3 linked regions of the Homo sapiens genome follow. The protein of the gene in region 1 interacts with the protein of each later gene in a biochemical or structural test. Each region holds a gene or a part of one and is shown in the gene's direction. Other genes may lie near its edges.

Region 1 (11,453 bases):
AAGACCAGCCTGCCCAACATGGCGAAACCCCATCTCTACTAAAAATGCAAAAAACTGGCCAGGTGTGGTGGCAGATGCCTGCGGTCCCAGCTCCTTGGGAGGCTGAGGCAGGAGAATCGCTTGAACCCAGGAGGCAGAGGCTGCAGCGAGCCGAGATCACGCCACTGCACTCTAGCCTGGGCGACAAGAGCAAAACTCTGTCTCAAATTAAAAAAAAAAAAACAAAAAACAGTTTATTAAGTACCAAGTGCTAGGCCAGGCACGGTGGCTCACACCTGTAATCCCAACACTTTGGGAAGCTGAGGAGGGTGGATCACTGGAGGTCAGGAGTTCGAGACCAGCCTGGTCAACATGGTGAAACCCCGTCTCTACTAAAAAAAATTAAAAAAAAATTAGCCAGGCGTGCGTGGTGAGGCATGCCTGTAATCCCAGAGACTCAGAAGGCTGAGGCAGGAGAATTGGTTCAACCCAGGAGGTGGAGGTTGCAGTGAGCTGAGATTGCGCCACTGCACTCCAGCCTGGGAGACATAGCAAGACTCCGTCTCAAAAAAAAAAAAAAAAAAAAAGGTCCAAGTGCTGTGATTGCAGGATTGGTTTGTTTCATTTTCTCATAATCTTATGACATAGGTATTGTTAGCCTTATGTTACAGCAGTGGAAACTGAGACTTAGGTTAATCAATTTGCAATTGATTTAGGTAGAAGTAGCAGAGCTAGGATCTGATCCTTGCTCTGACTCCAGTTCCTGAAGTGTCACTCATGAGAAGTCCTGAGGCAGGATAGGATAGTGGGTAAGAACATGGGCTATAGAGTTAAGTAGACTTGGGTTCAAATTTTGGCTGTACTGCTTATTCATTACATGACCTTAGACAAATTGCTTAATCTCTCTGAGCCTCAGTTTCCTCATATGTAAAATGAGGACAATACCCCACATAATAGTTTGGAGGAAAAAATGCCAATGCATTGTAAAATACATAGCACAGTGCTTGGCACCTGGTAGGGTCTCAATTAAGGTAGCAAGCCAATAACTAGGGACATTGGTCTGAAAGGATCAGTCATGCAGAGTAGCAATGCTGGGAGTGCTGGGCCCCTGCTATATCAATGCTAGGAGGACTCACACTGAAAAGGGTCAGGGCTTGACCTTTGTATTCCTGGGACTACTTCTCCCCCAACAGATGAAAAGTTGGAAGCAAGTCCAGCCTCAAGTCCCCTGGCAGACTCAGGCCCAGACGACTTGGCTCCTGCCCTGGAGGACTCGCTGTCCCAGGAGGTGCAGGACTCCTTCTCCTTCCTAGAGGACTCAAGCAGCTCAGAACCTGAGTGGGTGGGGGCAGAGGATGGGGAGGTGGCCCAGGCAGAAGCAGCAGGAGCAGCCTTCTCCCCTGGGGAGGACGACCCTGGGATGGGCTACCTGGAGGAGCTCCTGGGAGTTGGGCCTCAGGTAAGGAGAGCCGTGCTGGGTTTGGGGGTGGCATGGAGTCAAGGGTGGACAGGGCCTCCTGGTCCTGAGTCACAATGCTGTGCCTACAGGTGGAGGAGTTCTCTGTGGAGCCACCCCTGGATGACCTGTCTCTGGATGAGGCACAGTTTGTCTTGGCCCCCAGCTGCTGTTCCCTGGACTCCGCTGGCCCCAGGCCTGAAGTTGAGGAGGAAAATGGGGAGGAAGTTTTCCTGAGTGCCTATGATGACCTAAGTCCCCTTCTGGGACCTAAACCCCCAATCTGGAAGGGTTCAGGGAGTCTGGAGGGAGAGGCAGCAGGATGTGGAAGGCAGGCTCTGGGACAGGGTGGGGAAGAGCAGGCATGCTGGGAAGTTGGGGAGGACAAGCAGGCTGAGCCTGGAGGCAGGCTAGACATCAGGGAAGAGGCAGAGGGAAGTCCAGAGACCAAGGTGGAGGCTGGAAAGGCCAGTGAGGATAGAGGGGAGGCTGGGGGAAGCCAAGAGACAAAAGTCAGATTGAGAGAAGGGAGTAGGGAAGAGACAGAGGCCAAGGAAGAGAAGTCCAAAGGTCAGAAGAAGGCTGACAGTATGGAGGCTAAAGGTGTGGAGGAACCAGGAGGAGATGAGTATACAGATGAGAAGGAAAAAGAAATTGAGAGAGAAGAGGATGAACAAAGAGAGGAAGCCCAGGTAGAAGCTGGAAGGGACCTAGAGCAAGGGGCCCAGGAAGATCAAGTTGCTGAGGAGAAATGGGAAGTTGTACAGAAACAAGAGGCTGAGGGAGTCAGAGAGGATGAGGACAAAGGACAGAGGGAGAAGGGGTACCATGAAGCAAGAAAAGACCAAGGAGATGGTGAAGACAGCAGAAGCCCAGAAGCAGCAACTGAAGGAGGAGCAGGGGAGGTCAGCAAGGAACGGGAGAGTGGGGATGGAGAGGCTGAGGGAGACCAGAGGGCTGGAGGGTACTATTTAGAAGAGGACACCCTCTCTGAAGGTTCAGGTGTAGCGTCCCTGGAGGTTGACTGTGCCAAAGAGGGCAATCCTCACTCTTCTGAGATGGAAGAGGTAGCCCCACAGCCACCTCAGCCAGAGGAGATGGAGCCTGAGGGGCAGCCCAGTCCAGACGGCTGTCTATGCCCCTGTTCTCTTGGCCTGGGTGGCGTGGGCATGCGTCTAGCTTCCACTCTGGTTCAGGTCCAACAGGTCCGCTCTGTGCCTGTGGTGCCCCCCAAGCCACAGTTTGCCAAGATGCCCAGTGCAATGTGTAGCAAGATTCATGTGGCACCTGCAAATCCATGCCCGAGGCCTGGCCGGCTTGATGGGACTCCTGGAGAAAGGGCTTGGGGGTCCCGAGCTTCTCGATCCTCTTGGAGGAATGGGGGTAGTCTTTCCTTTGATGCTGCTGTGGCCCTAGCCCGGGACCGCCAAAGGACTGAGGCTCAAGGAGTTCGGCGAACCCAGACCTGTACTGAGGGTGGGGATTACTGCCTCATCCCCAGAACCTCCCCTTGTAGCATGATCTCTGCCCATTCTCCTCGGCCCCTTAGCTGCCTGGAGCTCCCATCTGAAGGTGCAGAAGGGTCTGGATCCCGGAGTCGTCTTAGTCTGCCCCCCAGAGAACCCCAGGTTCCTGACCCCCTGTTGTCCTCTCAGCGCAGGTCATATGCATTTGAAACACAGGCTAACCCTGGGAAAGGTGAAGGACTGTGATTAGGACCACAGCCCTGGGCAAAGGGGACCAGCAAGTTGTCTTGAATCTCCAGGGTTCCTGACTAGCTGTCTCCTCTGCAGCATGAGCAGCTGTAGTGCCCAACTCTATAGGCTTTGGCCCTCCAGCTTCTCTCTTTGACTGTGGGAGGCACTGCCTTGGTTGGTTTACCTGAACTTGTCTCCGACACAAAGCACTTATCTCTTAGGAGATTCCCAAGAAAGTCAACAAGATCTTGTTCCCAGGGAGTGGGTCATTGGCCAAAGGGAACATAAGGTAGGCAGAAAACTTAAAAGAGTTTGTTAAAGTGAAGACTGGAGAAATTCCTCCCTTCCTCTGAGCTGTGAATCTCTCTTCATGAAAGCCAAAGGTAGAGACAGGGAGGACAGGGCCAGGTTAGGGCCTTCCACACACAAACACTTCTAGAGTTGCCCATTCCTGTTATGTTCTTGGACCCTAAGATACCTCCTGTCCCTTTTAAATCCAGATTAAGAGAAACGTCCAGGAAGAGCTCTTTGAAGCCCTCAATATTTGTTGGAGGGACTGGACTCCTCTCCAGCTCCCCACCCTCTGCCTCCAGTCACCATGTGCAAGAGAGGTCCTGTACAGATCTCTCTGGGCTCTCCTTTCTCCTTTGGAATAACTTGTTCCTATTTCAGGAAAGGGAAATGGTGTCACTCAGGCCCTGGGACTGCTTCTCCAGCCAGGCTGGGGCCACAGGTCCCACTCTAGTGAAGGTCAATGTCTCAGAATAAAAGCTGTATTTTTACACATAGTGTGGAGTCTCATTATTCTTATTAAAGTCTTTGGTGATAGGTATTATATCTTCACATATTTGGCAAAACATTCTTTTTCTTCTTCTTGTTTGGGTGCTCTTCCTCAGTTGTTGTCATGGAGACTAGTGGCCAGAAACTAGAGCTAGGTTCATGGTGGTCAGGAAATAAGGAAGAGAAACTTATATTTACATAATGCGTTCATTATGTGCCAGGAACTGGACTAAGTATCCTGTGCTCACAAAATCTATGTCCTTGATTTTATTTAATCCACACAATTCTGGAAGGTTGGTGCTAGTATCTCCAGTTTATAGATGAGGAAACTAAGGCTCAATTAAGTCAAAATGTTTGCCAAAGGTCTCAGAGGTAAGAAGTGGCAGAGATGGGTTTGAAACCTGGATCTGCCTGGCCCCCAAGCTTGAATTTTTCCCATTATACCACACTACTCCAAATCCATTCAGGGTAGGTCTTGATTGAGAAGAATGGGAATCAAGATTCCTGTCACAGAAGGTGTGAGCCTTTAGAACACTAGAAGCTTTGGGGTCTTTGGATGAGTGACTGCTGACGCGAATAACAAGGAACATATCCAATTCTATGCATGCCCCGATAGGTCGTAATCTCTAGCAGGTAACCTTTCAAAAAGACGCCCTGCGCCAAGATGGCCTCCCAAATAGCCCTTGTTAAAGATGGCGCCTCCGTCGGACGTCCCTCCCTTGATCTCAGCTGGATTCTCTTCTTTCCTGGAATGAAAAAATGCCCTGCCAAGCACTAAGATATTAGTACAAGTTAGTCGTCTCTTTCCCGTTCTTGTCGAAAGTGGCCAGGCCTTCAGCTACATTCTCCAGGACACGGCTTCTTTCCGGCTTCACAAATAACCCACAAACACCAACTCTCATCAAGATGGAGTGAGCGGAAGTGGGGCAGTTCTGAGTTTGAGTTTATGGGCGGGGCGAGAGCGACACTTCCGCCCCTCACCAACATGGCCGCGGGCTGGAAGTGCGCATGAGCAGCTGTCTATGGAGATACCTAGGCCGGGAGAGGGAGAACACAGTTGGAGAAAATCGGCAGCTGAGACGGCCTTGGCCGGTGAGTGTAGGACCGGGCAGAAGTCTGGAAACTGGGTGGACTGGCAAGGCAGGGCAGCTTTGATTTTGTTTCCGTTTTTCAAGTTAGAGAACACTGCTGGGGAGGAAGCCTTTGTTTTGGGGGAGGGGGCTGTGCTGGTTCTTTATCTCATACCCTGCTTTGTGGGCCAAACTCTCTCCCTTCCCCAGAGCGCGAGCGTCCCAGCCCTCCTGCGCTGTCCAGCTGCGCGCCGCAGCCGCCGGCACCGGGCGCTTGAGCTCCCTAGTCCCCGAGGCCCTTTCCTGCCTCCTCCGCGGAGCAGCTGGGGCGCGGGGCTAAGACTGCGGGGCTGCGGGGTCACGGCGCAGGCTCCCGGGCTCGCGCCTGGCGGGCGCTCAGCTCCGTAAGCGCCTTCTGGTTGGTGAGCCTGCAGGGAGACGCCTCATTCTAAGGCAAGGTCTAGGTGCCTGACTTCTTTCGGGAGTTGATTTTTTTTCCCTTTGTGTCCAGACTTAGCAAGGGCTCTTACTGGGCCCTTCTGGCCTGAGCGTGCACACCACAACGTCCCATCCCTGTTTCCGTGTCACCGATCCCTAATGCCTAGGAAATGCTTCCGGATGTCCAACTAAGATTTGAATAAGTACCCTGACCCCGTTGCTGGGTGTCCTCAGAGACTGCCCCGGCTGACAGCTGTGGCCAATAGAGATGCCTCCTGTGCCGGGCCCTCTATTTCATTGCCTTCCCCTGCAGTCAGCGCGGCAAGCTTCGCAGGGCATTTCCTCTTCAGGTTTGAAGATGGAAATGTAGGTGGTCCCAAAACACTAGTGCTACTTCCCCTTATCGACTGGGATCTCCTTGCAGCGTTACTTCGTCTGTACGGTTTCACTTTCAGTTCCTTTTTCAACATTTTCCTCGGACGCGGTCTTTCCGAGGCTTATCCATTGAAAATTTTCCTTGGATAGGAAAGGTTTGGAGGACCTTATGGGTAGAGAATTTCCAAAAATCTTGCCCCTTTTGTGTTGGGATTATCTTATTGCTTTGTACTGTGTAGCTGTTTCTTTCTGGAGGCATGTCTGCCCAGCTCTTTGTTTTTCCTGCCCTCTGGCTGGGTGTCAGGGTCCTAAGGCAGAGCTTGTAGGTGGATTCTTCCCCCTTTGTCTCTTCTTCAGAACCCTGTTTTTTTTTTTTTTACCCCTTCTTGCTCAGGCTTAGTTGATTTGGAGTTGTCATAGCAACATTTTAGCAACAGTGTTGTTCTGCAGGAAGGCTTGATGAATAAAATAGAGAATGCTTGAAGAGGATCCACTTGGGCTTTAGGGTTTCTAACAGATTATATAAATCTGGATACCCCAAAACAAGAGTCCTGTCAGTAGAATGGGGCCCAAATGCCAAGTCTAGTCTTTGTGGTCAGGGATATTCTTCCAGTGGTAGTGGGCTTCAGATTTCCTCTTCCTAGGTTTGAAAACAGAAATGTCTTGATGGACAACATGTGGCTGAGAAACTGGAAGAAGCATCAGTGTCCATGACACTGTATTTTTTGATGGTGGGGCCAATACATGGCCCTTCCTGATTCCCATGAAGCTGCCATCATGGCAGGTCATAATAGCTTTAATGATCCATTTAGAGATGTGTTGTTGGCTGGGTGCGGTGGCTCATGCCTGTAATCCAAGCACTTTGGGAGGCCGAGGCAGGCGGATCACCTGAGGTCAGGAGTTCCAGACCAGCCTGGCCAATATGGTAAAACCCCATCTCTACTGAAAATACAAAAATTAGCTGGGCGTGGTGGTGGGCACCTATAATCCCAGCTATTCAGGAGGCTGAGGCAGGAGAATCACTTGAACCCAGGAGATGGAGGTTGTAAGCCGAGATTGTGCCACTGCACTCCAGCCTGGGTGACAGAGCAAGATTCTGTCTCAGAAAAAAAAAAAAAAAAAAGAAAGAAATGTGTTGTTTCGGCCAGGTGCAGTGGCTCACACCTGTAATCCCAGCACTTTGGGAGGCTGCCGAGGTGGACAGATCATGCTCTCAGGAGTTCGAGACCAGCCGGGCCAACATGGTGAAACCCCGTCTCTACTAAAAATACAAAAATTAGCCAGGCGTGGTGGTGTGCACCTGTAATCCCAGCTACTCCGGAGGCTGAGGCAGGAGAATCACTTGAACCTGGGAGGCAGAGGTTGCAGTGAGCTGAGATCGCGCCACTGCACTCCAGCCTGGGTGACAGAGAGAGACTCTGTCTCAAAAAAAAAAAAAAAAAAAAAGTGTTGTTTCTGTCTTCCAGTATAATTATCCACTCTCCACCAGGAGTTGGAGTGATAATGGAGGGATGGGGAACACTATTTGTAGCCTTGCTTTTTCAATCACTGTAGGCCAGTCCTCAACATCAGTATGGTGGAGGCTGATTGTCCCCTGCAGATGACTGGGTTATTTTCCTGGCTATGTGTTCATGGAACCTAAGTTCTAGAACCAGAGATACTGTTCTGTTTCCTAAACTCATTGCAAACTTCATGATTTCTACCAGGACTTAGCACTCAGGCCTGTGAATCAGGAGATACAAAGACCTCCAAAAAAGGACCAGTTCCTCGGATGTGCCCCCTCACAGAGAGATGAAGGGGTGAGTGAAGAAGAGGTAGGGTCTGGGATGAAAGATGGGTGGCCTGGAAGAATGCAAAATGACCAAGAGCACTGCCTCTGGAGTCAGGCAGACCTGGATTCAGGTTCTACTCTATCACTTACTGTGTGATTTGGTTTCTCTATCTATAAAATGGAAGTAGTGCTATCTATCTCGTGGTGCTGTTTTTAGTACTAAATAAGATTACATGTAATGTACTTAGCTTAGTGCTTATGTACATAGTAAACAGTAAACACTAGTTGTTATTCTAACCTAACCCAGCTTCTGTTGGGAATGCCAATGAGTTTGCAGCCATATGTTACTGGGCCAGTGAGCTTCTCATTGACTTCTTCTCATACTCTTCCTTTTGTCCTTTCACCACAAACAGGCAGCAGAAAACAGCTGAAACGGAAGAGGGGACAGTGCAGATTCAGGAAGGTGAGTGCTAGAAACAGAACCAAGACTAAGAACCCATCATGGCCTCCCTTCCTTCCCCACCAGACCATCTCCTGTGCATCCTCCTCCTTCCGTGACATGCAAATGGAACGGGGGTAGAAAGGCAGTTAACTCACAGACTTTTCCTTTGTTCTTTTAATTCAGGTGCAGTGGCTACTGGGGAAGACCCAACCAGTGTGGCTATTGCCAGCATCCAGTCAGCTGCCACCTTCCCTGACCCCAACGTCAAGTACGTCTTCCGAACTGAGAATGGGGGCCAGGTAAGGGAGGGGGCCAGGTGGCTGCAGGTGTTATCTGGGGTTGGGATTGAGGGAGGTAATTGAACATGTCTTGGGGAGACCTGGCTTGGAGGATGAGTTGAAAGAGTGGACTGTTGCAGGGGAGGGAGGTGCTAATACTGGAGTAGAGACTGGTGTGAGGTTAGATGTATGCTGAAACCTCTGTGTGGGGAAAGAAGGGAGAATGGCTGAATCCATGTCTCTGAAGGACTTTGTTTTGGGGCCCTATCCAAGGGAAGCTTTATGAGGGGCCCTAGGATTCCCAACACTTAATCTTTTCTTCTCTCTTCACTCCCTCTGCCTTCCTCTACACTTCTAGGTGATGTACAGGGTGATCCAGGTGTCTGAGGGGCAGCTGGATGGCCAAACTGAGGGAACTGGCGCCATCAGTGGCTACCCTGCCACTCAATCCATGACCCAGGTACAGGGTATGGGCTGGGGAGGTCACTAGAGTTCTGAGAAGTAAGATGAAGAAGGGAATCAGTAGGATGGGGGTGAAGCTAGGAACAGTGAGGCATCTAAGGCTGCCTTGTCCCAAAGCACTAGGCTCTCCTTTTCTGGATGTTTCTCTCTCTCTCTCTCTCTCTCTCCACCCTACCTACCACCCCAACGGATAGAAGCTGCAGAGTGGTGTAGTGGGAAGAAGTTTTTGACTGTTACCAGAATCAGTTTTCTTGCTCCCCTTCCCAGGCGGTGATCCAGGGTGCTTTCACCAGTGATGATGCAGTTGACACGGAGGGGACAGCTGCTGAGACGCACTATACTTACTTCCCCAGCACGGCAGTGGGAGATGGGGCAGGGGGTACCACATCGGGGAGTACAGCTGCTGTTGTTACTACCCAGGGCTCAGAGGCACTGCTGGGGCAGGCGACCCCTCCTGGCACTGGTGAGATATTGCATGAGGATGCTGGCTGAAAGGGCTAGAATAGGCTGTGGGACATGACTGGTAGGCAGTGAGCCTTCACTCATGACTCTTAGTGATCATTAAGACCTGGACAGGCAGTGAGTCTGGGGCTGCTCTTCTATTAGCATGTTCTTTTTAGAGGAGGGGACCAGGGTCTTCACCTCAGGGCTTGGTGAGGTTCCTACCCATGTCCTGACAGAACCTACCCTGCATCTTCACAGGTCAATTCTTTGTGATGATGTCACCACAAGAAGTACTGCAGGGAGGAAGCCAGCGCTCAATTGCCCCTAGGACTCACCCTTATTCCCCGTGAGTGACCCTTGTTTCTTCTCAGATTCCGTAAGTGGTTTTTTTTTTTTTTTTTTTTTTTTGAGACAGAGTCTTGCTCTGTCACCCAGGCTGGAGTGCAGTGGCATGATCTCAGCTCACTGCAACCTCTGCTTCCAGGGTTCAAGCGTTTCTCATGCCTCAGCCTCCTGAGTAGCTGGAACTACAGACATGTACCACCACCCCTGGCTAATTTTTGTATCTTTAGTAGAGACAGGGTTTCACCATGTTGGCCAGGCTGGTCTCGAACTCCTGACCTCAAGTGATCCGCCTGCCTCGGCCTCCCAAAGTGCTGGGATTACAGGTGTGAGACACCACACCTAGCTACCATAAGTGGTCCTAATACCTGCTAAATCTTGTATAATTCCTTAACCCCAAACTTCAATCATGTATTTTGTCTTCTTACTCTGGCCACCCTGGGCTCTGTTGTCAGGAAGTCAGAAGCTCCCCGGACGACTCGGGATGAGAAACGCAGGGCTCAGCATAATGAAGGTAGGTATGATCTGGGTGGAGCTAGAAGCTGTCTGGTGTGATCTCAGCAGTGATGTCTGAGGGGAGGAGGGATTAGGTAATTTTACCCTGGGACTTGTGGCGAGTTTTCACTGAGTCACCTTGTCCTCCACTTTGCCCCACAGTGGAGCGTCGCCGCCGAGACAAGATCAACAACTGGATCGTGCAGCTCTCCAAGATAATCCCAGACTGCTCTATGGAGAGCACCAAGTCTGGCCAGGTCATGGAAAGACCCTGGTAGTGGGCAGGATGCCTGAATTCTGCCTCCTGGTATTGTTTCCAGAAATGGTAGAGAGAGGGGCACACATGACAGTAGTCTTATCTCTCCCTGAGGTTCCTGTATCCCTGGGAGATATTATACCACCTTCCTTAGATGAAAATGAGGTCCAAAGTGTGAACCTACTTTTGGAAAGCAAGCTGGGTATCTGAAATCCTAGTTCTCATTTTGTTGACCTTATCTTGCAGAGTAAAGGTGGGATTCTATCCAAAGCTTGTGATTATATCCAGGAGCTTCGGCAGAGTAACCACCGCTTGTCTGAAGAACTGCAGGGACTTGACCAACTGCAGCTGGACAATGACGTGCTTCGACAACAGGTCAGACTCCTACCCCCAGTGCAGCCCTTCTCAGTTCTGCTAGCCACTGACCCAGTTTGACACCCTCTACTTTGTTCTCCATGGAGAAGGCTTCATCTTTTCCCCCTCACCAGTGGATGTCTGAATACATTCAGGGGCTTGGAAGTGCCAGCTTTACTACCCATTCCCTTTACTGCCTCCTTCCCATGTCAGGTGGAAGATCTTAAAAACAAGAATCTGCTGCTTCGAGCTCAGTTGCGGCACCACGGATTAGAGGTCGTCATCAAGAATGACAGCAACTAACTATGGGGATTCAGGGGCTTTGGGCCCAAGAACTGCAGATAGCCCAGGAGCAACAGCCTAATCCCGTGCCCCTTTCCTTCACTGCCCCACTTCTGGCATGGGACAGGGGGAAGTTCAGAAGGTGTGTCCTTGAACTGAGGCCCTGTGATATGGCGGCCTGCAGTGGTGTGAAACACACAATGTGGACGTGCACTGACAGCCTTGCCCACCCCCACCATGCAGCCCCTGGGCCCTTGTGCTCCTCTCGCACAATGCATGTGCTGTCTCCATGCTGGATACTGGACACACTAAACTCTGGGGCTTGTCCTGTGCTTGCTTAGAGTGCCCAGCAGAGGTTTGCTGACAGGTGATGCTCTGGCTTGCCCCAGGACTCTGGCACTTCCATTGGTTCTTCCTTTCCCTGGAGCTGAGGTTTAGATGTGCAACCTGTGGCTCAGGGGAGCAAGCTTACACAAGAAGTGAGGGAAGGATGTTTAGCAGTGGCTGGTGCCCATGAAGAGGAGATTGGCCA
Region 2 (11,642 bases), on another chromosome or scaffold:
GGAAGCGGAGGCGCTGGGGCACCATAGTGACCCCTACCAGGTGAGACACGGGGTGCAGGGGCGCGGGTCCCTGTGTCTAGTTCTGAGAAGAAAGGGTGCGCCTTTCTGAGAAGCTGGACTTGGGTAGGCCCTCTCAGGATGGGGAAGCCCAGCTGAGCGAGTGGTCAGCCTCTGGCTAGCCTTGCCTTCTGTTGCCACCCCCTTCCCCTTCCTCTTCCCTTCATTGTGTCTGGTTGGTGGGGGACCTCAGGTGACAGGGTCTCTGATGTCACCGGCGTTCACACCCTAGGGTGCTTCAGCTAATCAGATGGATTTGCACTTCAGTCTTCTCTCCTTCACTTTGCCCCTCACAGCCACCTCTCCTCCCTGATATGTCCCGTTCTCCTGGCTATTCTGTGGTTTTGATTCCCATGCCTCTGATTCCCATGGTGGGTCTGCTTATCTGCTTTTCAGGCCTGGTCTGGTTGGATTTCTTGTCCTTGCAAGGAAGTGTGTGTATATGTGTTTGTGTGTATGCGTGTGTGTGTGTGCTTGGAGGTGCCTGGCAATGTTTTCCCCCAGCTGCAGTTACCTTCCAACCTCTTGCTGTGATGGTGTCAATAATCTCATCCATTTGTCAAACGATCTGTCTTTTACAAAGTGCTTTGACAGCCATTCTCTCATGTGACATCCCCGCATTCACCCTGTGGGGGCCTCTTTTATTGGCATCTTCCCATTTTACAGTTGAGAACGTTGAGGCCGAGAGAGGTTGCCCAAGGTCACACAGTGGCAGAACCAGAATTTGAACTCAAGTCCTCAATCACATCTTTCCCTGATGCATGCCTGGTTCTTGCCATCTCTTTTCCTCTGAGTTTGGGCTCGGCCAGGGGTCCCTAGGAGTCCAGGCTGGGGTGAGGTTTAAGAATGGGGATGAGATGAGCTTCCTTTCCAGGAGGGCTCTACTCAGAAGCTTTTCCTGATGGGAGCCTCTGGCTTTTGCCTCTGCCTCATGGAGTTTTCTATCCACTGTGACCTTCATCTTTACCCCAATCCCAGGGTTTGGCCTGGATTCCTGAGAGGGCTCTCTCCTGACAAATGGTAGCACTAGTGGCATCTTTTAACTGTTCAAGCCAAGCTGTTGGGGTAGAATGATCCCCCAAAGGATTAAAGCTTTGTGGGGACCTTGGAGGCAGGGAAGGAAAAATCCATATGCTGAGTGTCTGCATGGTGTTCCTAAGTATGAGATCTCATTAAAATCTTAACAACAGCTCCATGCTGTAATCCATTTCACTGAAGAGAAGACCAAGAACTGGAAGGAACTTATTTAAAGCCCTGTTGCTGTACATTGCAGACGGGATGTACTGGTAGCATAGCTTAGGAACAGATAGATACGGGTTTCCTCATCTGTAGAATGGAGATAACATTGTTCGTTTTGGAAGGTGGTTATGATTTAGCACAGACCTTGGTTATTGTTCAAGTGTTTGTTGTTATTATGGGGAAGGGGACCTGCATGATGTTTTGCCAGTGGGTGGCACCCCTCCGTGTGGCCTAGGTTAGCATTCTGGGGCCTTGTGTTGGTAAAGAGGTCAGGAAGATTCCTTTGGCAAGTTGAGAGCACCTGCCTTTGTGTGTGGGTGTGTGGTGCTGGTGAGGGGTGCTTGGCACTGTTGCTGGCAGAAGGGAGAAAAGGGCCGGCTTTGAGCAACCTGCGAGCTGCTGAGGGCTGAGCAGAGAGCAATCACTCAGTCTCCCAGGCTATTCTGAGCCCTCTGCACCCTGGGGGCCCACTGGAGAGTCAGGCTCCCTCCTTGCCCTCCAGCTTCCAGTTGGGCTGAGACAAAATTAACAACACAACAGGAAACAATGCATGACAGAATAAATTACATGCTAAAATTGTTAGGTGCTTTTGAGTAGCTAGAACTCTGCCCCAGGAGTCCAGCTCTGCTGAAGGCTCCTTTGTGCCTAAATTCTGACAAGTGCTTAGGCTGGAGCCTGTCTTGGAATCTCCTTGAGGGTTTTGGTTCTGGTATCCTGCAGGAACTTTCTCCGGGTGTTTGGTTGGGTGCCCTAGGTGCTCTTCCCAATGGCTGGAGTGGTCAGGACAGGCTTCCTGCAAGAGGGGAGCTGAGCTTGGGGTGACAGCTGAGAGAGTAATGGATACAGGCCTAACCGGGGAGCCGAAGGTCCTGTTCTCTGACCTTGGAGAAGTCCTTTTTCTTCTCTGTGCCTCAGTGACCTCACCTAGGAAATGGTGATCATGATTCTGCCCTGCCTGTTTCGAAGGGCTGCTCTGAAATCATAGTGATGGAGGACCAGCTTTGGACAAGGCACTTAACCTTGCTGAGCCTGTTTCTTTATCTGTAAGATAGGGGAAATCATAGTACTTGCTTCATAAGGTTGTAGTGAGGACTGAATAGAGATAATGCACGTAAGGTACTCAGTAAATGTTATTTGTACCCTGCAAATGTCCTGTACCTGTGTGTGATGCTTATGCAGTTGGACAGGACAAGTAAGGTGGCCCAGAGCACAGAGAGGCCCTCATAGCCAGATGCCATTTATATCCCTATTCTTCCCATTCTAGATCTCCCCCTGACTTTTTTGAGAGTGACTTTGCGGGCTCCTCTGGGCCAGTACCCACTTCTAACAATGGACGGATTTCCACCGCCTCCGGCCTGGCCATTTCCTGTTCTCTTCCAGGGTGTGAGAGGTTGAGGGAGGAGGGGGCCTCAGCGCCAAGGGGAACAGAAAGGTGCCTGGAAACAGTTGGGGTATAGGACTTATGGGACAGGACACTTGGGGCTCTGGAGTGCTGGCTGGGAAGCAGAATGTTTTATCCTTGAGGGGAGATACAGGGGCTATAGGGAAATGAGAACTTGTTGAGCACTGAAGGGGGTGGTGAGGATACTTAGCTTCCCAGAATCTTCCTAGCAGTTTTAGGGACTCCAGGGACCCAGCCCGCGTGATCTGGTTGCCAGGGCAACTTCATTTTTTGGAGCTTTGATGTTGTTCCTAATCTCCCCCTCCCCTTCCTCAGCAGTGCCTCCTCCTCATCAGGGAATGAGGGGAGGAGATGGCAGAAACTTGATGGGTCCCTTCCTCTCCCTGAAGGCTCAATCCTTGATCTCTAAGGGTCCCATTTCCATTCCTCAGGCCAGGCCCCACTCTCAGGGCCCCCAGGGGCCACCATGCCAGCTGGGGGCCGGGCCGGGAGCCTGAAGGACCCAGATGTGGCTGAGCTCTTCTTCAAGGATGACCCAGAAAAGCTCTTCTCTGACCTCCGGGAAATTGGCCATGGCAGCTTTGGAGCCGTATACTTTGTGAGTTGGGTCTTGGGAGGGTGTAATAGGGATGGGGACTCTTCCTATCCCTGTGGACTTCCCAACAGCCCTTGCACACTACTCCATCACACTGGTCTTTCCTGCCTTCTCTTGCTGGGCCAGCAAGTCTTCCCATGCCCGGCTCTCAATGGGGCCTTCAACACCTTCTGGTCTGGTCCTCTAGGCCCGGGATGTCCGGAATAGTGAGGTGGTGGCCATCAAGAAGATGTCCTACAGTGGGAAGCAGTCCAATGAGGTGGGCCAGGTGCAATACAGCCAGGTTGGGGACAGGGGACTCCTGTCTCAAGATGCAAGCTGGGTAACCTCTGCCTACCCTGACCCCCTAGAAATGGCAAGACATCATCAAGGAGGTGCGGTTCTTACAGAAGCTCCGGCATCCCAACACCATTCAGTACCGGGGCTGTTACCTGAGGGAGCACACGGCTTGGGTGAGCTGGTGCCAGATTCTGGCCTGATCTTTACTCCTATTCATGCCCGTCCTTATCGTAGTCCAGTCTCTTAGGTGGTCCCTGTTCGTGGTGCTGTTGTGGGATCTTGGGAAGGAGGAAGTCTCTTTTGACCGCTTTAGTCCTCAGACATACCCACTGAGCAAAAGCCTGGCTCAGTGACACAGGCTGTTAGCAGGTGGGACAGGTCACTGTGGGCTGGAGAAGGTGGAGATTGAATGGGAGTTTGAAGGGATTCAGATGGGCAGTGGTGAATGTCTTGGGCCCAGACTCTAGAAACTCTCCCACCACCCCCTCATTGTCTCCAGTTGCGCTTCCTCCCTGTCATCACCCCGGGGACATAGCTTGAGTACAGGACAGTCAAGGAAGCTCTGTTTTGAGTCCCTGCCCAGGAGACTCTGATCTCTGACCCTTGTCTCTTCCTTAGCTGGTAATGGAGTATTGCCTGGGCTCAGCTTCTGACCTTCTAGAAGGTAAGTGACTGATAGGCCAATAAGTGGAGAAGGGAGAAGAGCAGGGGAGCCATAGGGAAGGGTTAAGGGGAGTTTATTCCAGTCCCACCCTTGCGCTCCCTCGGGTTGATGTTCTTCCTCACTCTCCAGTGCACAAGAAACCCCTTCAGGAGGTAGAGATCGCAGCTGTGACCCACGGGGCGCTTCAGGGCCTGGCATATCTGCACTCCCACAACATGATCCATAGGTACAAGCAGCACCGGCAGTGCCTGGGAGGGGAGTGCTATCTGCACCACCTGTCACTTAGCTGGGCTGCCCCTGCCTAGCTTTCTTGAGACACATGTCTCATCCCTGTACTTTGCCTCTGGCAGGGATGTGAAGGCTGGAAACATCCTGCTGTCAGAGCCAGGGTTAGTGAAGCTAGGGGACTTTGGTTCTGCGTCCATCATGGCACCTGCCAACTCCTTCGTGGGCACCCCATACTGGTGAGTGAGTGAGTGGTGGTGAGTGGAGAGACCTCCCAGGGATGTTGGGAGTAGGAGTGACAGGGTCTCGGCGGGTGATTTGCCTCTCTCTCCTGACCATTCTCCTAGGATGGCACCCGAGGTGATCCTGGCCATGGATGAGGGGCAGTACGATGGCAAAGTGGACGTCTGGTCCTTGGGGATAACCTGCATCGAGCTGGGTAAGAACATCCTCCCTGTTCCCTCATCATCTTTTCCATTCTTTCCTGTTAGTTCCCAGACTCCGGACTACCCCCTTCTCCTAGGGATGGGATCCCAGGCCTCCAAGTTCCTGTCCGTTGTGACTCTACCCTGGAGCCCAATACAGGCAGCTGGCAAATTCTGCCAGCTCTTAGGCCTAGAGATTTTGTAGCATTCATCTCTTCCTGTCCACTACCCTGGTTCTGAATCTTTTCTTAGTGCCCACCATGTGCTGTGCCATGGACTGTGATTCTGGAGGGATAGCAGTGAATGAAAATCCTGCCCTCATGGAACTTACATTTGATTTAGGGAAACCAGGCAGGCATGTTTTCTTTCAATGTGATGAACGCTGTGTGGAGAAGTTACAGGAGCGGTTCAAATGTAAAACAGGGGACTTGACCTAGTTTAGGGGCTGAAGAAGGCCTCCTTGTAGGAGAATATTGAAGCCAACCTGCAAGATAAATAATAGCTGTTTGCAGAATGTAGGGAAGAGCTTTCCAGGCAGAGAGAACAGCATGTGAGAGGCCTAGAGGTAAGTGCAGGCCTGGGGAACTGGGACTAGCTTCAGTTATTTGGAACCTAGCATGTAATGCAGAGAATATTGAAGGATAAGGCCAGAGAGTTAGGTCCAAGTGAGTTCCTAAGGCCTTGAAGCCATGCCAAGGTTCTCATCTCTGTCAGCCAGCACTATTGAAACAATTCTTTAATGAGGTAGGTAACCTTTATAAGGCTTCCAACACAATGCCAGGCACAAAACAGTTGCCTAAGAGTTGCTGTTAGTTTCTCTTATCAACAGCCTCCTGCAGTGATCTCTCCAGTCTCTTCTCCCTTCCAGTCTGTCTTAAGTACTGATGCCAGAGAGGTCTGCCTAAGCTCAGTGCTGTCATTTCACTCCCTGTTTGGAGCCATGAGTGGCCCCCTGTTGCCTTCAAGACTGAAGCCATCCCCATCCTTCCTCCCACCAACCTAGAGGCTTTGCTTCGTAAATGCTGGCCCTTTCCTTCATGGGCTCCACCCTCTGAGTGTGTCATGAACTCTTCCACTTCCTTGCCTTGGTTCGTATTGGGTCCTCTGCCCGAGGTCAGAGATTTGGACGAGCCCTTCTCCTCCATCTTCACAGTCTCCATTTACCATTAGATGCCAGGCCCAGACAGTTGATGAAAAATGTAAGAAACGGACCCAAGTATAAGAAAAAGCTAGATCTGTCCATTTTATTTCTAGTTTTTGGAAGAGATGTGGATACAGAGAAATATTACTCTACTATTGAAAAAAATATATATCAGTCTGATTATAAATGTCAACTCATACTAAGTCAATATCAGGGAAGCAGTGTGGAGAAGGATGTGGCAAACTGGAGATTGCTGTTTCCATAGAAAGAGGGCAGCTAATGCTTATCTCCAGACCATTGTTATGCAGTAATGTAGACTCCATTTCACCAGATTTAATTCTTAAGGAGAAACTGGAAACTTGTATTATTATTTGATTATTACTTTTGGCAGTTAATTTTAAAAATCACCGTTTAGGCCAAAACAACATGACATTTGTCTGGGCTACAAGGGACTCTTAGCGACTCTTAGCTTGCACTTACCTTTCTAATCTCAGGGCTTTTTACAAAGCCCTTCTCTGAATTCCCTGAAGATATGCTAGCTTGAAGGCTCACTGCATACTCTCAACTTCCCAGCCACTTCCCTGTTTCCCTCTTATACCAGTTAATACTTTGATGTTATTTTTTCAGTCCTATTTAATCTTTTAGACTGGAGGTTCCTTGAGGGTGGGGCCTAATTCTTGTTTTTATCTTCCCCATAGCAATTATCAAGTTATCTGCTCCCTTTGGCACCTAAGAAATATTAGTTGGGGTGATAACTGAATGGCTGTCCTTCTGCCTTCGTTACTGCTTTTGTGGATGTTATTTTCTTTGACCCCTATTCCACCCGTGTGCAGTGGAGAGGATGGGTGTTGTATTTTACAGAGGAAGGAATTAACTGAGACGCAACAGGATGATGGGAACTTCTCAAGGTCATGTGGCAAGGAAGTCAAGGAATTGGGGTTTGAACCCAAGTCGTCTCAGTTCCATTCCATTGTCCTCTACCCCCTGCCACCTCTCACCTTCTTCCCTTTCACCTTTTTCTGTAGCTGAACGGAAACCACCGCTCTTTAACATGAATGCGATGAGTGCCTTATACCACATTGCACAGAACGAATCCCCCGTGCTCCAGTCAGGACACTGGTGAGGACTGAGATTCCGAATCTGGGCCCAGGCGTTAGGCCATGGGGTATGGATGCCTGACTCATGCCTTCCCCACCCCTCTCCCACCCTCCTGTGACTTTCAGGTCTGAGTACTTCCGGAATTTTGTCGACTCCTGTCTTCAGAAAATCCCTCAAGACAGACCAACCTCAGAGGTTCTCCTGAAGGTGAGGGCCTGCTGGCCTAGCATTCTCCTGGAACTGTAGCTTGTTACAGCCACAAGAACCCCCAGGGAAATTAGTGGTTCCCAGTTCCTCCTCCACCAAGAGCTTCGTTGATGAATTCCCACCCCATCCCCAATGCCTAGTGGACTCTGTGTTTTACAAGATTTTGTCTACCAGACTGCCTTAATTTATTAAGTAATAAACTGTTTTCCCTTCTTTTATTAATCAAAGATTTATATAATTGCCAGCCAGAGCTTCTGGTCAGCATGTGATAACCAGGGTTGCCCCACTGATCTGATGTAATGCAAGCCAAAAGCCTGTGTAGCCTTATCATGGGTAAATGTATGATTTCCCTTAGGTGTTTTTTGAATTATCAAAAATGGAGGGGCCCCATTCCCTTCACAGACCCATGGGGGCCTGAGGAGCCGTAGTTGGAAACTTCAGATTATGTAGTTGGACCCACTTGTTTTATAATTGTAGGATACTGTATGAAGCCCAGAGGGGCCTCATGACATGTCCAAGGTCACATAGCCCTTTAGTAGAGGAGCTGGACGAGAATCCAGTTCTCCTGACTGTCCCTGCCTGTCAGCCATGCTTAGAGGAAGAAGAGTCTGTCTGGGGAGTAGGTACTGGGTGGTACAGAAAATTGTGAGAGAAGGGCTTGGGATAAGGCCAGCATCAACCCGTGGTGGGCGTGGGCCCCAGAAGAGTGCCTCAGGCCTGAGGGAATGCCAAGGGCTGTGGGTTGTGGGGGGAAGGGGAGTTGGCAGCAGACCTCAGTGCCCTCTTCCCCCAGCACCGCTTTGTGCTCCGGGAGCGGCCACCCACAGTCATCATGGACCTGATCCAGAGGACCAAGGATGCCGTGCGGGAGCTGGACAACCTGCAGTACCGCAAGATGAAGAAGATCCTGTTCCAAGAGGCACCCAACGGCCCTGGTGCCGAGGCCCCAGAGGAGGAAGAGGTGACCCAGCTTGCCCTAACACCCCTCTTTATACCCCATGTGTGCCTGCCCCCTGCAGTTGCTTGGCCCCTTCCCCAGCCCTACTCACACCACCATCTTCCCATGCTACCTCCATGCATATGCCCCAGGGCTTCCCCTTCCCTGTCCAGCAGCCTACGCCCTGTTCGCAGGAGGCCGAGCCCTACATGCACCGGGCCGGGACTCTGACCAGCCTCGAGAGTAGCCACTCAGTGCCCAGCATGTCCATCAGCGCCTCCAGCCAGAGCAGCTCCGTCAACAGCCTAGCAGATGCCTCAGACAACGAGGAAGAGGAGGAGGAGGAGGAGGAAGAGGAGGAGGAGGAAGAAGGCCCTGAAGCCCGGGAGATGGCCATGATGCAGGAGGGGGAGCACACAGTCACCTCTCACAGCTCCATTATCCACCGGCTGCCGGTACACAGCTCACCCTTGGGGGACCCGAGCCACCTGCTCTAGAACTGCCTGGGTCTTCGCCCTCCTTCCCTAAGTGCAGCACTCCTCTGAGTCTGATTGGCTGTCCTCAGGTAGCTCTCTTTGGACCCAGTGGCCTCTGAGCCTTGGGTGTTCCTTCTATCTCCCTCTAGGGCTCTGACAACCTATATGATGACCCCTACCAGCCAGAGATAACCCCCAGCCCTCTCCAGCCGCCTGCAGCCCCAGCTCCCACTTCCACCACCTCTTCCGCCCGCCGCCGGGCCTACTGCCGTAACCGAGACCACTTTGCCACCATCCGAACCGCCTCCCTGGTGAGTGTAGCCATCCTCACTCAGCCTGCTCGCTGTCTGTTTTTTAAGTCTTTTTAAGTCTAGAAATGATTTCCTCCCTGTGGCATGGGATTGAGTCTGGATTCTACCCTCATTTTCTGTTGCTGGCTCCTGCCTGCTCCCCTTAACCCTCCTGCTTCCCTCCTCTTCCCAGTGGACTGTTTTGGTCATATGGCCCAATCTGGGTGTTTCTAGCTTGGCAAACTCTTACTCCGTTTTTGTGGCCTGACTTAACTGACATCTCCTGGGTTGCCTTCCCAGGCTCCTCTGGTGAGTCAGATGCTTCACAGTTGTGTGCTGGGGAAGCCCAGTGCTGGGGGAGCCCTGTGCCTGTGGAGCCCTGTGCTGGGGGTGTCCAGTGCTGGGGAGCCCTGTGCCGGGGGTGCCCTGTGCTTGGGTGGTCCTGAACAGCATCATGATAGGTTTGCCAGATTCTGTGCCCCAGAGGGCAGGGATGGTGTTCAGATATCTGTCTCATGCCAGCAGTTAGCTCTCAGGCTTACACACAGGCCTGTGTTAACCCTCCCAGCCCCCCTGGGAGGGGAAGGGTAAGATCCCATTGGAGAAATGAGGCACCTGTGGCTCAGAGGGGCCACTTGCCCCAGTGCCTTTGGTGGCTCTCTGCTCCTGTAAGCAGGCCCTTAGTCCTCTCCTAAAATCAACTCATGGCAGTCTTTCTCAGTTCACAGGAAAAAGTGTTTAGGCTTTTCATAAAACATAGTTTTTCATCTATGTTTTTAGATCACGTTCCTGCTGAGCTGCATTTGAGCGTCAACAATCCCCTTAGAGGCCACTGATTAAGTCTAGTATGTTCTTATGGCCTCTGCTTGGTGCTGGTTGTGTTCCAACAATTCTTCAGATCCCATGGTGTTGTGCGGTACTGTGCTGAGAGGTCTTGACTGCCAGGGGCTTGGCTGCCGGGACTAGTTTGAGAGCCACTCATAGAGTCAATTGAGAATGAGACCTGAGATCAGACTTTGGATGAAGGTGTCCAAGCCCAGTGTTCTTGTTATTCCAGCATCTTGTGGCCCCGATCCCACCTCAATACCTGGGGAGTGATAGGCCGACCATGTTTGCTGAAGGGGAAGGAAGCCAACACTTATTAGATAGAGTCCGAACTTACCCCACAGCCCCTATGAGGAGGTATTATTTCCCCATTTAACAGATGAGGGAACTGGTGCTTTGAGAAGTTAACTTACTTGAGATCACATGCTTGGTAAGTGGCAAAGCTGGGATTTGATCCCAGGTATGTCTGACTCACTGTTTCAAATTAGTATGGATTGTTCCTACTTTTGTGCCAGGCCCTGTGCTCGCCACCTTTTATCATTCGGCCACACCAACTTGTGATGTAGATAATATCACCATTATCCAGTTGAGGAAACAGGCTAGAGTGGCCGTGTGTGAGGAAGGTGTTAAATGAGAATGAAACCCATGAGTTGAAAACCCATGCTCTTCCCCACGGAAGACCCCTTGTGTTAATTAACTAGGGGCCAGGCTGAGCCCCAGCTCTCACCCTCTCTCCTTCCCCAGGTCAGCCGTCAGATCCAGGAGCATGAGCAGGACTCTGCGCTGCGGGAGCAGCTGAGCGGCTATAAGCGGATGCGACGACAGCACCAGAAGCAGCTGCTGGCCCTGGAGTCACGGCTGAGGGGTGAACGGGAGGAGCACAGTGCACGGCTGCAGCGGGAGCTTGAGGCGCAGCGGGCTGGCTTTGGGGCAGAGGCAGAAAAGCTGGCCCGGCGGCACCAGGCCATAGGTGAGAAGGAGGCACGAGCTGCCCAGGCCGAGGAGCGGAAGTTCCAGCAGCACATCCTTGGGCAGCAGAAGAAGGAGCTGGCTGCCCTGCTGGAGGCACAGAAGCGGACCTACAAACTTCGCAAGGAACAGCTGAAGGAGGTGAGCTAGGGCTGCTTGGGGGCGGAGCCGATGGCGAGCCAGGTGGGTCCTGACCCTGCTTCCCTCTGCACTCGCCCAGGAGCTCCAGGAGAACCCCAGCACTCCCAAGCGGGAGAAGGCCGAGTGGCTGCTGCGGCAGAAGGAGCAGCTCCAGCAGTGCCAGGCGGAGGAGGAAGCAGGGCTGCTGCGGCGGCAGCGCCAGTACTTTGAGCTGCAGTGTCGCCAGTACAAGCGCAAGATGTTGCTGGCTCGGCACAGCCTGGACCAGGACCTGCTGCGGGAGGTAGGCATCCCAATCTCTGTTCCCCTCCCGCTCACTCGTGGATCCCAGGGACCCACCCTTTTCCATTTTCCTCATTCTTGTCTTCTTTCTCCTTGGCCCTCGAGTGTTACAGTTCAGCTTTGCTTCAGTGCCCCTTTTACTTCTCATCCCCAACAGACCCTGCCAGAATTTCCTTAGGCCTCTTTTCCCAGGCCAGGGAGGAGCTTGCCTCCCCTACACCCTCATCTCCTGCCATCCCCAGCTCCCTCTGCCAAGGAGCCCTGGCCCCTCACTTCCTTGATACTGACCAGGCCCTGGGCCCTGTGTTTCTTCCGCCATCCCCAGCTCCCTCTGCCAAGGAGCCCTGGCCTCTCACTTCCTTGATACTGACCAGGCCCCGGGCCCTGCAT
Region 3 (8,960 bases), on another chromosome or scaffold:
CCCACAGTTATTAACTATGGCATTGAGGCTTTGAAGAGATCAGGCCGGTTGTCTAGAGAATGCCCCACATTCTGGGTTTAGATGGCTCTATTTACTGTTGGTAATTTTAAATTTTGGTGTAATTTCAAACTTACAGAAAAATTGCAAGAACAGTACAAAGAGCTCTTTGTAGGCCTGTCCGGGTTTGCTCCATTCTCCCTGCCGGTCCCAGTTTCTCTCCAGGTATCTTTGGGATCCATTTGATAGTAAGCTGCAGACACCATGCTTCTTTATACTTAAATACTTCCGTGTTTTTTTTTTGAGACGGCGTCTCGCTCTGTTGCCCAGGCTGAAGTGTAGTGGTGTCATCTTAGCTCACTGCAACCTCTGCCTCCCAGGTTCAGGCAATTCTGCCTCAGCCTCTTGAGTAGCTAGGACTACAGGCATGGCCCACCATGCCCGGCTAATTTTTGTATTTTTAGTAGAGACCAGGTTTCACCATGTTGGCCAGGCTGGTCTCAAACTCTTGACCTCAAGTGATCCTGCCTACCTCAGCCTCCCAAAGTGCTGGGATTACCATTGAGCCACCACACCCAGCTAATTTTTGTATTTAATAGAGACAGGGTTTCACCATGTTGGCCAGGCTGATTTTGAACTCCTGACCTTGTGATCCGCCTGTCTCAGCCTCCCAAAGTGCTGGGATTACAGGCCTGAGCCACCACACCCGGCCCAGTGTTTACTTTTTTTGAGACGGAGTCTCGCTCTTGTCACCCAGTCTGGAGTGCAATGGCGTGATCCCGGCTGACTGCAACCTCCGCCTCCTGGATTCAAGCGATTCTCCTGCCTCAGCCTCCCGAGTAGCTGGGATTACAAACGCATCCCACCACGCCCGGCTAATTTTTGTATTTTTAGTAGAGACAGTGTTTCGCCATGTTGGCCAGGCTGGTCTCGATCTTACCTCAGGTGATCCTCCCGCCTCGGCCTCTGAAAGTGCTGGCATTACAGGCTTGAGCCACTGTGCCCGGCCCCCGTGTTGACTTTTTAATATCCACAACGATGAAAATCAGGACATTTAACATTGGTGCAAGACTGTTATTCACATTTTGCCTGCTGTCTCAATAGTGCCCACTACAACTTTTTCCCCAGTCGGGATGGCGTCTGGGGCGCTGGTTGTGTTTAGTTGTGAGATGCCCCTGCACGCTGGGGGCCCTGAAGGTGCCAGCCACTCCTGGGGCCTCCCTTGTGGTGTCTGTCCCTCCCTTCTTCACACCAGCAGGTGGTTGAGTCCCGCTTCGCATCTCCCTGCCATCTGCATCAGGCCCCGGTGTCGCTGTCCCTCACGTGCTGTCTGTTGTCAGGCCCTGCTGCAGACTCGGACTGGCCTGTCCCTTCTCTCCTCCTTTCCTGCGGACACGCTGTGACTTCTCCCGTGATCCTTCTGTGAGAACTCCCTGGACCTCGTGTCCTGTACTGGCAACCGCCCATTTCTCTGCTCTCCTTGGCTGCCCGGCTGCCCGGCGCTTGTCTGTACCTCCTGAGCCACTTCATCCTCTCTTGGATCCATTCCCAGCAGCCTGTGATCATGGCCTCCCATGCCGTTTGGTCACGCCACCACGCCCAGCTAATTTTTGTATTTTTAGTAGAGATGGAGTTTTGCCATATTGGCCAGGCTGGTCTCGAACTCCTGACCTCAGGTGATCCGCCCGCCTCGGCCTCCCACAGTGCTGGGATTACCAACGTGAGCCACCGCGCCTGGCCTACATACGGATTTTCATTCTGTTTTTGAACATGGCCACTGGAGGGCCTCTCGGCTGCAGAGCAAGCGTTTGTAGCTTGTTCGTGGCAGAATGAGCCGAACGCTGTGTTGTGACCTGTTTTAAAAATAAAGCATCTTGAAAAAGAAAAGCCATTCTTTTTGTCCTAATGAGTTTATGCCTCCTTACCTCTGGCCACCTGAGCTCCTTGGTCTGCTGTACCCCTCTGGCCTGGGCCGTGCTGGAGTCTTTCTGGGGCTCAGTCATTCACTTTGTTGGTTTTTTATGTGGGGTCAGTGGTAGTGCTTTTTCCATCATAATTTGCTCTTATCTTTATTATCCCAAAACCTTATTTCTATTATTTCCTTCTTGAAGTTTTATTTTTTTCTGGTATCTTGGGTTGAAAGTTTATTTTGTCTATGTTGTTTTCTAATCAATGCATTATAGTAAATTTGTCCTGGTGTGCTTTTGAAACATTTCACAGGTTAGGACACAATGCTTTCATTGTTTCTCAGTTTTAAATAGCTTGTAATTTTTTTTTTTTTTTTTTGAGATGAAGTTTCACTCGTTGCCCAGGCTGCCGTGTAATGGCGCGATCTTGGCTCACTACAGCGTCTGCCTCCTGGGTTCAAGCAATTCTCCTGCCTCAGCCTCCTGAGTAGCTGGGATTACAGGCATGTGCCACCACCCCGGCAAATTTTGTATTTTTATTAGAGATGGGGTTTCTCCATGTTGGTGAGGCTGGTCGTGAACTCCCGACCTCAGGTGATCCACCCACCTCGGCCTCCCAAAGTGCTGCGATTACAGGTGTGAGCCACTGCACCCGGCCGCTTTCTTCCTCTTAATAACTTCCTGGTATATTTTCCTGACTCATAGTTAGAGCTATTTCTTTTTTCTTACTAAGAAAATTTTTTTTATTGTTGGTATTATTATTTTTCTTTTTCTTTCTCTCTTTTTTTTTTTTTCCCAGCGAGGGGCCCTCATTCTGTCACCCAGGCTGGAGTGCGGTGCAACCACAGCTTAGTGCAGCCTCGTCCTCTTGGGCTCAGGTGCTCCTCCTGCCTCAGCCTCCCGAGTAGCTAGGACCGTAGGCGCCCCTCACCACCGCACCCGTCTTGTTGTTATTCTTCTCATGTTCACAAATCTAACATGAGTATCTGCTTTGGGACGTTGTCATCTCAATGTTTTGATGTTATAAAAATTCCTTTAAAACTCAACGATTTCACATATGTTCTGTTGCAAATAGATGCATTTGGATTGAGGTGCAGATTGAGAGTGCGATGACATCAGTACCACGTCTTTGGCCTGGGCTCAGCTGAGGAGGACTAAGGGGATCTGCTCCTCTCTTTCACAGCTGCCCCAGCTCCCAGGAGACGGGTCGTGGGCGGGCCCTGCAAGGGTCCAGATGGAACCACAACTCAACCCTGCCTCTGCCCAACTGTTCATAGTGAAGGCAGACGCCGGGACTAGCCTCATCACTGTGTGAAAATAGTTCAGAAGATCTTGCGAGCGCCTAGTTATGTCTGAGGATGATTATTTTCTTCCTTCCTTCTTTTTTTTTAAATTATCGTCTTTTAAATTTAGATGGATAATTAAGAATGCTTCCAATTTAAGGTTCTAAGCACAAACTCCAGATACGTCATGTTATGGACTTGCTTCCTGAAGATGAAATCAGCAGTTGATGGAAAGAATCCACAACACGCCTACAGAACAGCAAATCACAAATGGCTGTGTCTCCACGAAGCCAGGAGCTTTGCATTTGAAGTTTCTATCTGGGCTCATTTCCAGCTGTTCAGGGTTCGGATTCCTGAAGGCTTCCTTAGCATTTAACTCATTCTTTGTTGACTGAAGGCACTGGCACTGTTTCTCCACACGCAAACTGATCTTTGTCATAAATCACTTTTATAATGAGAGAGCAGCCTGGACACATTGCCACACCTTCCCCATTCTCCAGCTCTTCCTTGGTGATGGAGAAGTTATCTCCGCATGGGCAGGGACAGAAATATGTCTCCGAGTCCTCGTCATATTGGAAGTCCTCGATTTCCACCTCGTCATGAAATACTGCCATGGTCAGCGGGGGTTGCTGAAGGGGTGACGCCCCAGCAGTCCGAGACCAGCTCCGAGGGTCTAACTTCTCCGGAGCCGGCCCAGGCTCTGACTTTCATTTAATTGTCCTGAAAGGTGAATTCTATCTTGCCAAATAGGCAAGTGTTTTTTATATGTAGGCTTTAGGTGTCAGAATATAGGAAATTATCAAAATGTGGGGTCATTTTAAATTGCATCCTAAAACCTTTTAAAATTTGGGAAGAAGCTGGGCGTCGTAGCTCACGCCTGTAATCCCAGCACTTTGGGAAGCTGAGGTGGGCAGATTACCTGAGGTCAGGAGTTCGAGACCAGCCTGGCCAATACGGTGTGACCCCCGTCTCTACTAAAAATACAAAAATTAGCCGGGCGTGGTGGTACATGCCTGTAATCCCAGCTACTCAGGAGGCTGAGGTGGGAGAATCAGTTGAACCCAGGAGGCAAAGGTTGCAGTGAGCTGAGATCGTGCCATTGCACCCCAGTCTGGGCGACAAGAGTGAAACTCCATATCCAAAAAAAAAAAAAATTGGGAAGAAAATGAGTATATTTATATGCAGGTGTAGATTCTGAGTGCACACAGTAGTTGGAAATGGCAGCTTGCTTGGTTGGAAAGTTGCTTAAAAGTGGATGGGTGGAATGTTCCAGTCACTCCAGGTGGTTCAGAAGTTAAATCCATGGCAGCATGGCGCTTGTGTCCTCCTGGACTTGAATTAAGTAGAAAGTTACTACAACTCAGCAACAAAAAGACTACACAGACTGGGAACCGTGGCTCCCGCCTGTAATCCCAGCACTCTGGGAGGCCGAGGTGGGTGGATCACCTGAGGTCAGGAGTTTGAGACCAGCCTGGCCAACATGGTGAAACCCTGTCTCTACTAAAAAAACAAAAATTAGCCGGGTGTGGTGGCAGGTGCCTGTAATCCCAGCTATTCAGGAGGCTGAGGCAGGAAAATTGCTTGAACCCCAGGAGGCAGAGGTTGCAGGGAGGTGGAGGTTGCAGTGAGCTGAGATCACGCTGTTGCACTCCAGCCTGGGTGACAGAGTGAGACTCGGTCTCAAAAAAAAAAAAACAAAAAACAAACAAAAAAAAACAGAAAAAAAATGTTGAAAGCCAGGCGTGATGGTGTGCACCTGTAGTCCCAGCTACTCGGGAGGCTGAGCCTGCAGTGAGCCGTGGATGTGCCACTGCATTCCAGCCTGAGAGAGCAAGACCCTGTCCAAAAAAAAGACAGCACAACTGAAAAATGGGCAAAGAACTTGAATAGACATTTCTCCAGAGAAGATACACAGATGGCCAATAAGCCCATGAAAGATGCGCCAAGCCGTTAGTCATTAGGGAAATACGAATCAAGACCCAATGAGATACTACTTTTACACATACTAGGATGGCTATTCAAAAACAAAAACAAAAGCAAAATAGCAAGTGTTGGCAAGGATGTGGAGACATCAGAATCCCTGTGCTTTGCCGCTGGGGGTGTGAAATGGTGCAGCCACTGTGGAAGACAGTATGACAGCTCCTCAGAAGGTTCAACATAGAATCACCAGAGAAGCATAAACCCCAAAGAGGTGAAACAGGGACCCAAATGGATGCTTTTCTATGAATATTCATGGCAGCACCTTTCACAGTGGCCAAAAGGTGGAAATGACTCAAGTGTGCTCCAGCAGAGGAATGAGTAAACAAATGTGTTACAAGCACACAACAGAATCTTACTCAGCCATGAAAAGGAATGAAATTCTGACACAGGCTACAGCATGGATGGCCCGAGGTCATTATGCTGAGTGAAATAAGCCAGTCACAACAGGGCACACCCTGCGGGATTCCGTAAACAAGGCACCTAGAGCCGTCAGATTCAGAGAGACAGAAAGTGGACTGGTACGTGCCAGGGGCTGGGGGCCGGAGCGGTGTGGAGTTAGTGTTTAATGGGTACGGAGTTTCTGTTTAGGGTGATGAAAAGGTGGTGGCGGCTGCACAGCACTGTGAGTGGACTTCACGCTGCTCCACTGTACACTTACACATGCTTAAAAGGCAAATTTTATGCTATATTTTAATACCACAATAAAAACTGTATAAACCTGGATTTAATCGTGTAGAATGCTATGTTTTAAAACCAACTTATGGAAATTTTCAAATCTGCACAGAAATAGAAAGTGAACTCCCAGGTCCCTCTAACTCAGTTTCAGGCATCAGCTTGTTTCACCTATCCCCTCGCCCTCCCACCCCCGCTGAATTATTTTAAAACAATTCCAGACATCATTTCATTCATAAATATATCTTCCGAAAGAAAAGGCCTGTTTAAAAACACAACCGCATTATCAGTCTCCTTCCTGAAAGCCTTCACTCCTTATTACCCACCTGAGTCTCCTTCCCGAATCTGAGCAGAATCTCCCGTGAGCCCACAGGTGTCTCTACGGTCAGCTCATTTGAATCAGGATCCAAACATCACATTTGGTTGATAGTTTTTAAATATATCTTAACCCGTAATAGTTCCCCCTTCCTTTCTTCCTCACCGTTCATTTGTTGAAAAGGGAATGATTTGTCCCGTAGACGTTTCCACATTCTGCCCGTGGTGGTTGGCGCCTGTCATCGGGCCGTCGCCTGTGCCCCTCTCTTCCTCTCAGTCTCCTTCGGGAGGTTGAGACTGACCCCACCATTATAATTGAGGCCTTTTGTAAAAGACAGGTGGTGTGACAGGAGCAAGCTCAGCCCACCCCCACCCTGCTGGCAGGGTCTCCCCAAGGACAGAGCCATCTCAGCGAGCAGCACCTCCACCTTGCTGGCCTTGGAACCCTGAGTGTGTGGCAGTGCAGAGGGCAAGGCAGTCGCCCTGGGGTGGGGGTAGATGCCCCTGACTTGTTAATTGTTGAAACTTTTTAAAAATTTATTTTTTTGAGACGGAGTTTCACTCTTGTTGCCCAGACTGGAGTGCAATGGCATGATCTCGGCTCACTGCAACCTCCACCTCCCAGGCTCAAGAGATTGTCCTGCCTCAGCCTCCCAAGTAGCTGGGGTCACAAGATGCTTGCCACCACGCCCAGCTAATTTTTGTATTTTTAGTAGAGATGGGGTTTCACCATGTTAATCAGGCTGGTCCTGAACTCCTGACGTCAGGTGATCCACCCACCTCGGCCTCCCAAAGTGCTGGGATTATAGGCGTGAGCCGCCACGCCCGGCCTGAAACGTTTTAATATATACACTCTACCTTCTCTCACACGCTGGGTTTACAGGTTTATTAGCTAGGGCCCATTAGCGGTTGAAACGTTCATGTCATGTATATTTTACCACAATAAAATCAATACAGTGTGGCCAGACATTCTGAGTATTGGAAAAACAAAAGTACATGTACAGTGTAACTGCTATTTGAAAAAAAAAAAGTTAAAATCTGTTTATTATATAAATCCCCTTGTGAGGTAAGACACAAGTTTGTGAATGACACCTTAAAACAGCGTATTCTAAAGTCATTTACTTAGCTCTTAATTTGAACCTTTTGCACTTTGGAAGACAGCAGTTTTCATGTCAGTTAATTCAGTATGTTAACCGTCACTTCTTCACTGCAGGAATTTGAGAGCGTATTTTGCGGTAAAACTGGCCGAAGGCTAAAGCTGACCAGACCGGACTCCTTGGTGACCTGTCCTGCACAGGGGAGTTTACAGAGCAGCCCCTCGATGGAGATCAAGTGATCGGACTGAACAGGAATCCTCGGGGGGTGAACAGCCATTCCTTCGTGACCTGTGCACGCCTTCTGCAACCCTGGAGCTCTGCTCGGCTAGTCTGACTCGAAAAGGGCGTGACTCAAGCTGACGGGACTCCAGTAGGGACTTTGAGAGCACATTTTGTAAAAATATTTATCTAGACGCAAATGCTTATCCATGAATGTCCTCTTAGACCATTTGGGGATGAAGCCATCTTAATAATTAGTAATAATTAATTAGTAATAATTAGTAAGCATTTTCTCAATGCTCTGATTCCATCATGTTTTCTTAACATGATAACTTAAAAAATTGACATCCTTTGTACTTTCTTTAATCTTAAAAAGTACACGGCTTTTTACTTATTTACCTTTTAAATATGCCCCTTTAGCAATTGGAACAAGTTAAATTGTTAACTAAAAACAGTTTGGAAATTTTATTTCATTCGTTATATCACACCCCCTTGTCATGACTCTGAGTCACGTGCTGCTGTATTGCAACGTGCAGGACCATTTTAAACCTGTGTGCTAAAAATTTTCCAGATACTTGCTTTAAAGCTACTTTTGTCCACAAATGAAATACTGTCACAGTAGACGCTTAAATGCCACGTTTTCATACCAAGAGTCATTCATTACTTCATGTGTCACAAACTGTGGTGTTTGGAATTGGGTTTTTCAATGAGTGGCTTTACTTATCAATCACAACAGGTAATAGCAATAGACGTTAGTGCAATACAAAGTCACCCTCAATAAATACTGTTAATTGGAGATGTGAGTTTGTACACAAAACATCAGACTAGACCTTTGTATGGGAGAGAATTTACTGTACATTAAATTCTTTATTTTTTGTTACTCTGTAGCCAGTCATTAATCTGAAGGTTTAATATATCATTTTATTGGGATGAGATCATAGTCTTTACACAAATGCTATGTAAACAAGTTACTGAATATTTTTCACCTCGTGGAGTTGTACACAACCTTTTATATATACACACCCTACCTTCTCTCAAATGCTGGGCTTACAGGTTTATTAGCTAGGGCCTTTTGAGGTATGCTGTCAGGCGACAGCCCGATGAGGGTGCTCGCTGGCAAGGCCCGCGCGTCCAGTCGGCGGCCGAGGGGCAGCCAGGGGCGCTCCCTCTCCTGGACGTCACCCGCCTGCCACACCCCCGCTCCTTCATGACCGTCCACTGTGCTTCGGGCGTCCTTGTCACTTGCTTCCTCACGTTGAATTTTATGAGCTTCGAGAGCCTGATTTCTCCCCGACCCCTCCTAACACGGCTCCTTGGCAGGCTGAGGTGTCGCAGATCCCCGGTGTCCCCTGGGCCCCAATGGCACCTGGAAGCCCAGGATCTCCGGGAGGCCCAGGCTCGCCGGGAGCACCGTCCTGGCCGTCCTTGCTGGTGCCGGGCACGCCTTGGGGTCCTTGGGACAGAGCAGAAAGGTGAGTTCAGCTGCAGCC

The links.
Region 2: of the proteins of USF1 (region 1) and TAOK2, one has a biochemical effect on the other in vitro, tested with the Homo sapiens proteins (one study listed by BioGRID).
Region 3: the proteins of USF1 (region 1) and TCFL5 form a complex in vitro, tested with the Homo sapiens proteins (one study listed by BioGRID).

What each region holds. Positions count from the first base shown.
Region 1 is NC_000001.11:161,039,409-161,050,861, reverse strand, and holds the start of USF1 (upstream stimulatory factor 1), read left to right. Parts: upstream 1-4,884; 5' UTR 4,885-5,004; intron 5,005-5,877; exon of another isoform or gene 5,878-5,950; intron 5,951-7,501; 5' UTR 7,502-7,586; coding exon 7,587-7,594; intron 7,595-7,979; coding exon 7,980-8,029; intron 8,030-8,189; exon of another isoform or gene 8,190-8,191; coding exon 8,192-8,307; intron 8,308-8,644; coding exon 8,645-8,746; intron 8,747-9,015; coding exon 9,016-9,211; intron 9,212-9,450; coding exon 9,451-9,538; intron 9,539-9,989; coding exon 9,990-10,048; intron 10,049-10,191; coding exon 10,192-10,286; intron 10,287-10,531; coding exon 10,532-10,660; intron 10,661-10,852; coding exon 10,853-10,942; 3' UTR 10,943-11,453. Other genes in the region: ARHGAP30 (rho GTPase-activating protein 30), read left to right, coding at 1,173-1,438, 1,528-3,147.
Region 2 is NC_000016.10:29,974,609-29,986,250, forward strand, and holds part of TAOK2 (serine/threonine-protein kinase TAO2), read left to right. Parts: coding exon of another isoform or gene 1-27; 5' UTR 28-40; intron 41-3,129; 5' UTR 3,130-3,164; coding exon 3,165-3,296; intron 3,297-3,480; coding exon 3,481-3,552; intron 3,553-3,643; coding exon 3,644-3,745; intron 3,746-4,190; coding exon 4,191-4,236; intron 4,237-4,365; coding exon 4,366-4,462; intron 4,463-4,586; coding exon 4,587-4,700; intron 4,701-4,808; coding exon 4,809-4,900; intron 4,901-7,052; coding exon 7,053-7,146; intron 7,147-7,250; coding exon 7,251-7,332; intron 7,333-8,125; coding exon 8,126-8,293; intron 8,294-8,442; coding exon of another isoform or gene 8,443-8,463; coding exon 8,464-8,724; intron 8,725-8,894; coding exon 8,895-9,056; intron 9,057-10,604; coding exon 10,605-10,970; intron 10,971-11,049; coding exon 11,050-11,253; intron 11,254-11,642. Other genes in the region: uncharacterized protein LOC124903762, read left to right, coding at 1-27. UniProt on the Homo sapiens protein: Serine/threonine-protein kinase involved in different processes such as membrane blebbing and apoptotic bodies formation DNA damage response and MAPK14/p38 MAPK stress-activated MAPK cascade.
Region 3 is NC_000020.11:62,840,505-62,849,464, reverse strand, and holds the end of TCFL5 (transcription factor-like 5 protein), read left to right. Parts: intron 1-3,317; coding exon of another isoform or gene 3,318-3,329; exon of another isoform or gene 3,330-3,347; coding exon of another isoform or gene 3,348-3,563; exon of another isoform or gene 3,564-3,762; intron 3,763-7,367; coding exon 7,368-7,490; 3' UTR 7,491-8,460; downstream 8,461-8,960. Other genes in the region: COL9A3 (collagen alpha-3(IX) chain), read right to left, coding at 8,733-8,923. UniProt on the Homo sapiens protein: Putative transcription factor. Isoform 3 may play a role in early spermatogenesis.